Linked DNA regions of Homo sapiens. The protein of the gene in region 2 purifies or fractionates together with the protein of the main gene of each other region. This does not show direct contact. Each region holds a gene or a part of one and is shown on either strand. Other genes may lie near its edges.

Region 1 (3,500 bases), on a different chromosome or scaffold from region 2:
AAGATTTCAGAGGTACTGGATGCTGGGACAGTCGATCCCCTGACAAAGCTGGTCCTTGTGAATGCCATTTATTTCAAGGGAAAGTGGAATGAGCAATTTGACAGAAAGTACACAAGGGGAATGCTCTTTAAAACCAACGAGGTAGGGAAAGATTTTTCAGATATACTGCTACTTTCTTAAAGTAATATTACAGGAAATATTCTCTTGGAAAAATGAATAATTTATTTGACATGATCTTGATTTTAATCTATTTCTGAATTATATTATATTATTTTATTTTCTTTGAGACAGGGTCTCTTTTTGTCACCCAGGCTGGAGTGCAGTGGTGTAATCTCAGCTCACTGCAGCCTCGACCTCCCAGGCTCAAATGATTCCCCAACCTTAGCTTCCCAAGTAGCTGTGACTACAGGTGCACACCACCAGGCCTGGCTAATTTTTGTATTTTTTGTAGAGATAAGGTTTTGTCATATTGCCCAGGTTGGTCTCAAACTCCTGGCCTCAAGTGATACACCTGCCTTATCCTCCCAAAGTTCTGGAATTACAGGCAGGAGCCACTGTGCCTGGCTTCTTTTCTGAATGAATTTAATGCCTCCTGTGTATCTTTAATGGCGGAAGGAAGAGAGAAACAAAAATAATTTTGGTATTGATAGTTTTGTTTTTCCATCTTTGATCAAATCTACCTTCCATCTCTGGTCATATGATTTGGATTGGAGGAGAATTTCTTCTAAGCCTTGGAATTATGTTTGCATGATGCTATTACTCTCTGTATTTAGTTAGATACCTTTTTGCAATATCAGTGGCAACTATGCCTATTTATTGCCTTAAAAGTCAAAGTTATACAATCCTGAGCACAAGAAAAAAAAGTTAGCAGATGTAAAGCCTAACTTTACCTTCCCTTTTGAATATTAAAATGGCTGGTATCAATAGTTGTTAGCTTGGGATTTGACATCCATCAAATATGATACTCTCATATTGCACAAAGATATGAAAGTTAAAAATATATTTGATGCAGGCTTTAAAAACAGCAGACCTTACACATCTCTTCAAGGTCCCCTTCCTAAGAAAGCCAAGGCCATAAAACCAATTCTACAACAAGGCAACTTTCCAGAGTTTGGACCGTACATCTTTTCTAACCAGATCCTTCAGCCCAAGGGCCTGAATATTTATCTTAACTTCGATAAAGAATTTTTAGTTGGAAGCTTCCATGAGAAAGCTTCTCTGTGAATGTTCTCAAAAAAGCAAACACAGCTTCTTCCAAGGATAATGTCAATTTTTGTGTCCTTCTCCATTTACCAAACTGTTTTTTTTTTCTCACCTGGTAATATTTGATCTGCTGGAACAATAGCTTGTTCTATTCAATACTAAGATGTACTAATGAAGATTTTATATCTATCAGCATAAATGTGCAGAAACAGTAATTATACACACCTAGAGTTTCTGTGAGTTAGATATATCCTATTTTTAGTAAATTATACCCACTTTTCAGTAATCGAACTTTAATTTTTCCGTTAGGAAAAAAAGACAGTGCAGATGATGTTTAAGGAAGCTAAGTTTAAAATGGGGTATGCGGATGAGGTACACACCCAGGTCCTGGAGCTGCCCTATGTGGAAGAGGAGCTGAGCATGGTCATTCTGCTTCCCGATGACAACACGGACCTCGCCGTGGTAAGCTCCAGGCAATGAGCCTGAGTATCTGTGGAGTCCAGCTGAGCTCATTTCTTTATGTTCATCTACCAATTGGCATTTGAGGAGTTTCCAGTTGGGGTTATTACAGGCAGTGCTGGGTGAACATCATTGTGTGTCTTTTGATGAACATGTTCATGCATTTCTGTTGAGTGTATACATATATGAGTGGACAAGTTTTGATGAAGCTAAGAAGAGAGAGTTCTAAATATATTATTATTTGGAATATTATTCTTTATTCTGCATGGAAGGTCTATTTGAAAGCCCAATGATTATTGCACAAAAGTCCTGGAAGAAGGGTAGGGATCAATCTTGGCAGTGATTCTCAAACACTAATGCACATATATGATTCTAGTGATCTTGTTAAAGTGCAGATTTTGATTCAATGGAGTGTGGCCTGAGATGTTGCATTTGTAACAAGATTCCAAGTGATACAGATGCTTGGAACCACACTATGAATAGCAAAAGTCTAAAGTACAGGTGGGAAATTTACCTTATACAAGAGGAGAGAAAAGTCTTACTGTGACAGAAAAGGAACAGAGTCCAGGAAGGGAAGTGGTAAACTTGCAAGGTAGGAGGTGCAAGACTAATAGTGCACTTGTAAACCAGCTCTGGGAGGTGGGAGAAGCCTTCATTTATAAAGTTTGCTGATTCTCATGACATGGTAAATACTCCCACCATGGCCGACTTTAGTCTACTGAGGGTTTAACAATTGATAGGGGTCAGCTCTGGCACACCAATGCACAGGATGTTGAGGGTGGGCTGCTTGATTTTCCTGGCTTCCCTTTGGAATCAGAAAGCTACTGCCCTAAGTCAGGGATGACATCTGTTGTGGCCACTTATGAGAAAATTAGGAGAGTCTAGAAATAGAGTCAAAATCAAAACAATGCTCGTTGGAGAGGAGTACCCACCTGGGCTCCAGTTGTTAAAGGGAAGGGGAGATGCTAGTGGAAGGCCTTTCTCCCTTTTTTCTTTCTACCTTATTGATAAATAGAAAGAGTGATGGATCTTGAAGAATTTGAAGCTAACTCCAGGACAGGCAGAGGACAAACAAGGATGCTGATGAAGTCTTCTTGCATTCCCCATTTCTCGTCTCATGCTCCCTTCTCATGCCTCCCTTCATCTTCAGATGAAACACAATTCCCTCTCTTTTACTCTGAGTTGCCCTCTGATTTAACCCTGAATAGTCCCCTCATTAGACTCAGAAGCAGAGTTCTGAGCCATGCTCTTTGTCTTTTGTCAAACAATCTCTCCCACTCACAGTAGTATGTATTGCATGAAGATTAATGTAATGAATTGGTTAGAATTTTCTAAACTGTTAAAAAATGTTTTTAACATTTGAAAGGAGTTAGGTACAAATTGTTTTTATTAAAAATTTCTGCCTGTCTCAGGTGTTTACTAGCTCTTTTACACTTGTCTCCATAAAACTGTGAAAAGATGAAAATTTGGGAGAAAATCTTGGTGTGTTTATAAAAGAAAATATCTGTAGATTTTCTTGGACCAGAACTCACCATCTAATTGCATGTCATTGGGGGAGGGGTAATAAATGGGTGTGTGGGTATCAGGCTATTGTCATCTAAATTTTAAGGTTTGAGTCTTTCTTATCCTAGGTGGAAAAAGCACTTACATATGAGAAATTCAAAGCCTGGACAAATTCAGAAAAGTTGACAAAAAGTAAGGTTCAAGTTTTCCTTCCCAGATTAAAGCTGGAGGAGAGTTATGACTTGGAGCCTTTCCTTCGAAGATTAGGAATGATCGATGCTTTTGACGAAGCCAAGGCAGACTTTTCTGGAATGTCAACTGAGAAGAATGTGCCT
Region 2 (2,983 bases):
TAGGAGACCATGGAAATCATCATTCGGGAAAACCAAAGACAGACCAGAGAACATCTGAGTTCCTAATCAATAAGCCAAATGGGGGTGACTCAGCAGAGCCATGAAAGGAGCACAATTAAGGAGCGGCAATAAAAATGTATGACAAAGAAAAATGAGAAACCAGTTACTGTAGCTCAGGTCCACTTTACCATGAGCCAAAGTAAAATCTAAAAAGACTTTAACTAGGCAATACAGGCCTAACACTTGCGTTGAGGAGACAAGAAGAGAAGCATGAGCTCTGAAATTCTTCGAGGAAAGGGAGTGTAAAGATGAGCATTTCTGAGTTGTAAAGGGATAGAAAAGATGTATTCAGTAGTTTGCTACTAGGTCCTAATAATATTTAAAGATATGCATCCAAAATAAATGAGATAACTGGGGAAAAATGAGAATAGACTATTAAGAAAACTATATTTTTTGTTAGAGAAGATTTGGTTTTAAATTCCATTTATACAGCTAAGATTTCATATCATGCAGGCAATTTTTCTACATGTCAGCATTCTGACAAATGTCTGCCTCAGTTTATTATTTAAAACAATTAAAATAAGTGAGTGACCCAAGGGGTAGAGAATTGCTGCAATCTCTCCAAACTCCACAGCTAACTTGTATTTTGTCATAAGATAGCTAAAGGTCATCAAAATAGAAGAAATATAGTATAGGAAAAAAAAGAAGATAAATGAAGTCATAGTTTTAATGGCTCTCACATGAACTTCTGTGCTGGGGTCTCTACTGCCGGTAGCATAGAGTTTTATTTGCTTGGTATGTCTCCATAAAGATCTTACTAAAAGGAAAAATGATATCAGTGACACAATAAATGGGACAATTGCAAACAGGTTAAAGAGAGTCAAGGGTTCAAAGTATGGTATTTTACTCACATGGAACATTTCAGTAATGTTTCTTTTATGTTTGGCAATTGCATGAAACCTATAATCACAACTCAGTACTATTGCTGCTATAAGGCTGACCAACAAGGAAATGGCAAAGCATCCCAGCAGGATCCAGTGCACCACCATATCAATTTTCCACTTCAGCCAGAGAAAAAGTGGATGAGAGGAACTGGCTATCTTCAGAAAATAGAAGACATTAAGGCAGGTGGTAATCCACATATTTAAGTAGTTGGCAAATGTCCAGAAGGTAAAAATGACTATCTGTTGTTTATTTTTTGTATAAACATCTGGGTTCAGTACTATTACAATGCCATTTACAACCATTACACTGATCAAACAAATTCTGGCGATAACTAAATTGGTAAGGATGTAGTCAACTGTGGAAATCTTTTTCTTCTTAATCCAGTCAATCCAGTTGACTAGTGCAATGTATCCATTCCCCAATATTCCTAGTATGAATTCTCCAGTTATTAGGATTATAAAGATGTTATCTGCAGGACTGAACATGTTTGTAGAGAGAACAATCTGATTTCAAATATCACTGTAGATGAGCTAATTTACAGGTGACCTGTTAAAGCATGATAGATCAATTCTTCGAATCATGCAATAATGTTTTCATCTGCTGTTATTTCGACGTTGTTATTCTTCCGGAAGTGTTCAGCTCTCCTCTGAAATAGGATTGTCTCTACACTCCTGAAGATGAAACCAACTAATGAGCAGCTTGACTAGTTATTTATAGCCTGGAAAAATTATAATTATTATCCTTTAGTGAGTGATACCTGAAATGTTTGGCTGAAATTGCTCCCATGCAAATTCAAAGAGATTTTATATCATGAATTTGCAACAGGCTTCTTGCTGTAGCTCTATATTTGGATCTTCAAATTGAGTTTTGAATAGGGAGTCATAAAAAAAGAGATAAATGTTTAATAAAAACCCAACTGTGTAAATAAAACTTCATTTTCATCATGTAAGTTATAAATAAGCCACAAATCAGTTCTCCCAGATGCAAAGAAATTTTCACTTTGGAAGTAATTAGTACAATTAGATTGTAGATATTTAACATTTAGTCAGAGGATAATAATTCTTGTCTTCATTTAAACGGCTAATTAGGGAAGGATATAATACAAATCTAATTAGAAATGACTTTTTTTTAGGCAGGCACATGATAATATTTACTAAGAATTTGCTTTCTTTTCAATTGTTCCTCAGAAGTGAAATATGCCAGGTAAAGATTTGTTATCTTTAGTTTTTTTTTAATGTGACAAATACCCTTGAAGACAATTCATTTCCTGAATCACTGTCTCTTGTATAATAAGCATTGTAATCTAAAATTAAGAAAATTTAAATTTTACATTATTCTAGTTCCAATCAACTCCTTTTATAAGATTTGTAATCTCACAGTGCATATTATAGTCATATTTCTAGATAGGGCAAACACATAAAAAAGTAACTACTTGGGAGACTGAGGCAGGGGGATCATTTGAACCGGGAGGCAGAGGTTGCAGTGAGCCAAGATCGTGCCACTGCACTCCAACCTGGGCGATACAGTGAGACTCTGTCTCAAAATAATAATAATAATTTTTTTTTTTTACATACCAGTATTTCCAAGGAATAGGACTAATTCTACTATTAAATTAGATTTATTTGTTTTGGGGTAAGGGAAAGTACAACTTAGCCCAAAATACATTTGAATGTAGGTAATACAAATCACAATACCCTAGGGCTTCTTGTATTTAAATAGTTCTACAATGTATACAACACATGCAGGATTTTTTCTATTTCTTACATGTGTGTAATGTGTAACAGGAAAGCATAAACTTAATAACTTAAAGAAACCTAGTTATCTATAAACTACTGCTGGAAACAAAATAGAAAAGAAAATGATGCAGAGGGAAAAAAATATGTCAGAGATTTCTGAGTTAGAAGGCTAGAGAGAACATTCCAGGGAATCTTTGGGAAATGACTTCTAAAATTGCCATCACCAGCTAGAGTACTCATGAACACGCTGACTACTGGGACCCTCAACCTTCTTTCTCAAGGTGGTTCTGCTATACATAACT
Region 3 (3,500 bases), on a different chromosome or scaffold from region 2:
AGAATCCTTGTCCTGGCCCTGTGCAGTGGCCACACCTGTAATCCCGACACTTTGGGAAGCTTAGATGGGAGAATCCCTAGGGGCCAGGAGTTCAATACCAGCCTGGGCAACATAGGGAGACCCTGTCTCTACAAAAAAAATTTTTAACAATTAGCCCGGTGTGGTGGTGTGAGCCTGTAGTCCTAGCTACTTAGAGGCAGATGTGGGAGGATCACTTGAGCCCAGTTTGAGGCTAGTCCAGGCAACATGGCAAGATCCTATCTCTACCAAAAATATATATAAACGTGCGTGTGTGTGTGTGTGTGTGTGTGTGTATAAATATATAAAAGAATCCTTGTCCTGCCTGTCTCATGGGCAGCTTGGAGGAAACACTGTTTTTTTGTTTTTTTTTTTTTTGAGATGGAGTTTTGCTCTTGTTGCCCAGGCTGGAGTGCAATGGCACGATCTCAGCTCAACTGCAACCTCCACCTCCTGGGTTTAAGCGATTTTCCTGCCTCATCCTCCCGAGTAGCTGAGATTACAGGTGCCCACCACCACACCTGGCTAATTTTTTGCATTTTTAGTAGAGATGGGGTTTCACCATGTTGGCCAGGATGGTCTCGAACTCCTGACCTCAGGTGAGCCACCCCACTCGGCCTCCCGAAGTGCTGGGATTACAGGCATGAGCCACTGCGCCCAGCCTGGAAACACTATTGACAAGTGAGGAGGCCTAGTCCATTGAGTATCAGCTAGGGCTACAAACTTCCAAATCGGTGAATCAGGTCCAGAGAGGGACAAGTGCCCCAGGGTTACACAATCATTTGCTGAAGCAGAGGTTGCTGCCATCTTTGGCCTCACCCAACTGGACCACTTCCTTGGGCACTGAGTGACATAGCTCCAGCAGGTCTGGATTCTGCAGCTTGGTCCTTATCTTCTGGCTCAGGGTCAGCTCCGGGCTCTGAGGAAGGGGCAGGGGCAGGACCTGTCTGTCAGCAGGGCCATGTAAAGGCAGCTGACCTTCTCTCTGAGCTTGGTCAGACTTTGGGCAGTTCATCCCCTCCCCACCCCTGTTGTTGAGCTAAGCTGGGGACACCTGACCCCACCCATCTCCTTGCCGGCCCATGTGGACACCAGTGTGCCAGCACGTGTGCTCCATCCCTCTCTGGGCTTACCGGCCTGTGCTGCTGCAGGGCCTCCAGGACCGAGCGGGCCTTCTCAAAGGGGGGGATCTTCAGCCTGTAGTGGGGGCAAGGCAAGCCATGCTAGGCAGTGGGGAATGTGGGCACACCTGGCCCACCGCAGTCCCCATGCCCATGCCTGCTTGCTGACCGGTACAGGATCTCTGCCCGCAGATAGTTGCCAATGCCATTGAAGAACCTCTGGTCCAGGAGGGCCTCGCAGATGGGCCGGTCAAAGGCCTTATCCGCTAGGTTTCGTAGCACATTCTCCCTGGAGGAACACGGTCTGGGTGCGTAAGACCCATCCCCACCCTCCATGGGATGGGGAGAGGGGCTCAGAGAACCTGTTTCTGGGTGCAAGGGGAAGGAAACTGGGAGTTACAGTTCCTCTTCTCCCTGCCCCCGTTTTCCTATCTGTTAAATGGGAACATCAAGGGATTTAAATTCATTGTGAAAGGACGGCCAGGTGCAGTGGCTCATGCCTGTAATCTCAGCACTTTGGGAGGCCGAGGCGGGCAGATCACTTGAGGTCAGGAGGTCGAGACCAGCCTGGCCAACATGGTGAAACCCTGTCTCTACTAAAAATTCAAAATTAGCCAGGCATGATGGTGGGTGCCTGTAATCCCAGCTACTTGGGAGGCCTGAAGCAGCAGAATCTCTGGAACCTGGGAGGTGGAGGTTGCAGTGAGCTGAGATCGCAGCATTGCACTCCAGCCTGGGCCACAGAGCGAGACTCCATCTCAAAAAATAAAAACAAAATTAAAAATAAATTCATTGTGAAAGGTGAAAAATACTGATCTAAAGTAACTTGAGGCTGGTGTGGTGGCTCACACCTGTAATCCCAGCATTCTGGGAAGCTGAAGCAGGAGGATCACTTCAGCCCAGGAGACCAGCCTGGGCAACAAGGAAGACCCCATCTCTACCAAAAATTTAAGAAGTAGCCAGGGGCTTAGTGATGCACTCCTGTGGTTCCAGTTAATCAGGAGGTTGAGGTGAGAGAATCACCTGAGCCCTGGAGGTTAAGGCTGCAATGAGCTGTGATGGCGCCACTGTACTCTAGCCTAGGCAACAGAGCGAGACCCTGTCTCAAAAAAAAAAAAAAAAAAAGCAACATGAGGTTGTATATGAGGTTGTGTGTTTATCACCTCAGACTCCTCAGGACATGAGAACAGTGTGGCCACAGGACCTCAAGTGTGTTTGCAGTCTGGAGCTCCCTGTATAGCATTTGTGGTGGGTTAGAGACCATATGTGGGTTTGCCATTGGTAGGGTCCATTCTTCTCAAGATCCTGGACATTGTCTGGCTCTGTGCAGGAGATATGTGGAGTACCAGTGAGGGCCCTAGCAGCCCCCACCCCACCTCCAAGGGTCATGGGTCTCCCCTCCTCACCGTGAAGAGGATGTGCATCTTGTTTCTTTGCGGAAAAGGGTCATGGCAAGACTGACTAATGGGTGTGATGAGTGGGTCAGAAGACAGAGTTCTGGGGTGAAGGTACAAGGGTAGCCTGGGAGGTGCCCTGATCCCTGAGGTAAGCCAATTGCCACACGCCCCAGCTGGGGGACTAAGAAAACAGCCCAAATGCTCGTGGTTTGAGAGAAACTTCAGAGCCAGCTGGCAGAGTTAACTTGTGGCGTGACTCCCCAGGAAGGCTGAGGTGGGAGGAATCCAGGACCAAAGACAGATGTTTCCCTGGGGATGTGCTTGGAGTTCACACAGGGGAAGGCCAGGAGTCAACTTTCTTCTAAGGCACCAGAGACATCTCCAACCCATCCCACAGGTATCCAAGTCTCCTAAGGGTCAACGGACGCACAGCATCCCCCAGAAAGGGAGAACTTGCCAACCCTACTCCAGGCCTCTGCATTTGTGACTCTTGCCAGTTCCAATGCCTTCCTCTGGCTGGCTCCTTCTCATCAGTCAGGCCTCAGCTCAAACCTCCCTAGAGTGGCCATTGCTAATGTACCCCCACCCTCGGCCAAGTCATCCTCTACCTCCTTCACCTGTTGGGTTTTCCTAAGGCATGGGTCCATTTCTCATTCCCCTATCCTATGTGAACATCAGTTCTGTGGGAGCAGGGACCACATTCATCTTGTTCACTGCTGTACCCCGAGCCCCTAGAACAAGGCCTGGCATGAAGCAGAGACTCATACACGTTTCCTCTTCAGAGGAAAGGAAGTGGCCAACACTGTGCCATGTGAGGTGACCTGCATCACATCCCAGGTGGGGCTGTTACACCCTACTGCAGGCAGGGAAGTGGCGCAGAGGAGACCACAGGACACAGAATACTGGGCAGGCCGGATGTGGGAGACCACAAAGCCCAAGGCGGAAGCCATGTCATGAGATAGTC

The links. Proteins that work in one complex are often made in the same cells at the same time.
Region 1: the proteins of TAS2R8 (region 2) and SERPINB8 purify together in Homo sapiens (affinity purification with mass spectrometry; one large-scale study listed by BioGRID and IntAct). This does not show direct contact.
Region 3: the proteins of TAS2R8 (region 2) and NEIL1 purify together in Homo sapiens (affinity purification with mass spectrometry; one large-scale study listed by BioGRID and IntAct). This does not show direct contact.

What each region holds. Positions count from the first base shown.
Region 1 is NC_000018.10:63,983,581-63,987,080, forward strand, and holds part of SERPINB8 (serpin B8), read left to right. Parts: coding exon 1-141; intron 142-1,512; coding exon 1,513-1,665; intron 1,666-2,677; coding exon of another isoform or gene 2,678-2,686; exon of another isoform or gene 2,687-3,070; intron 3,071-3,293; coding exon 3,294-3,500. UniProt on the Homo sapiens protein: Has an important role in epithelial desmosome-mediated cell-cell adhesion.
Region 2 is NC_000012.12:10,805,551-10,808,533, forward strand, and holds TAS2R8 (taste receptor type 2 member 8), read right to left. Parts: upstream 1,737-2,983; 5' UTR 1,431-1,736; coding exon 501-1,430; downstream 1-500. UniProt on the Homo sapiens protein: Receptor that may play a role in the perception of bitterness and is gustducin-linked. May play a role in sensing the chemical composition of the gastrointestinal content.
Region 3 is NC_000015.10:75,350,039-75,353,538, reverse strand, and holds part of NEIL1 (endonuclease 8-like 1), read right to left. Parts: intron 2,239-3,500; coding exon of another isoform or gene 2,163-2,238; intron 1,508-2,162; coding exon of another isoform or gene 1,429-1,507; coding exon 1,309-1,428; intron 1,216-1,308; coding exon 1,152-1,215; intron 938-1,151; coding exon 838-937; coding exon of another isoform or gene 797-837; exon of another isoform or gene 557-796; intron 1-556. UniProt on the Homo sapiens protein: Involved in base excision repair of DNA damaged by oxidation or by mutagenic agents. Acts as a DNA glycosylase that recognizes and removes damaged bases.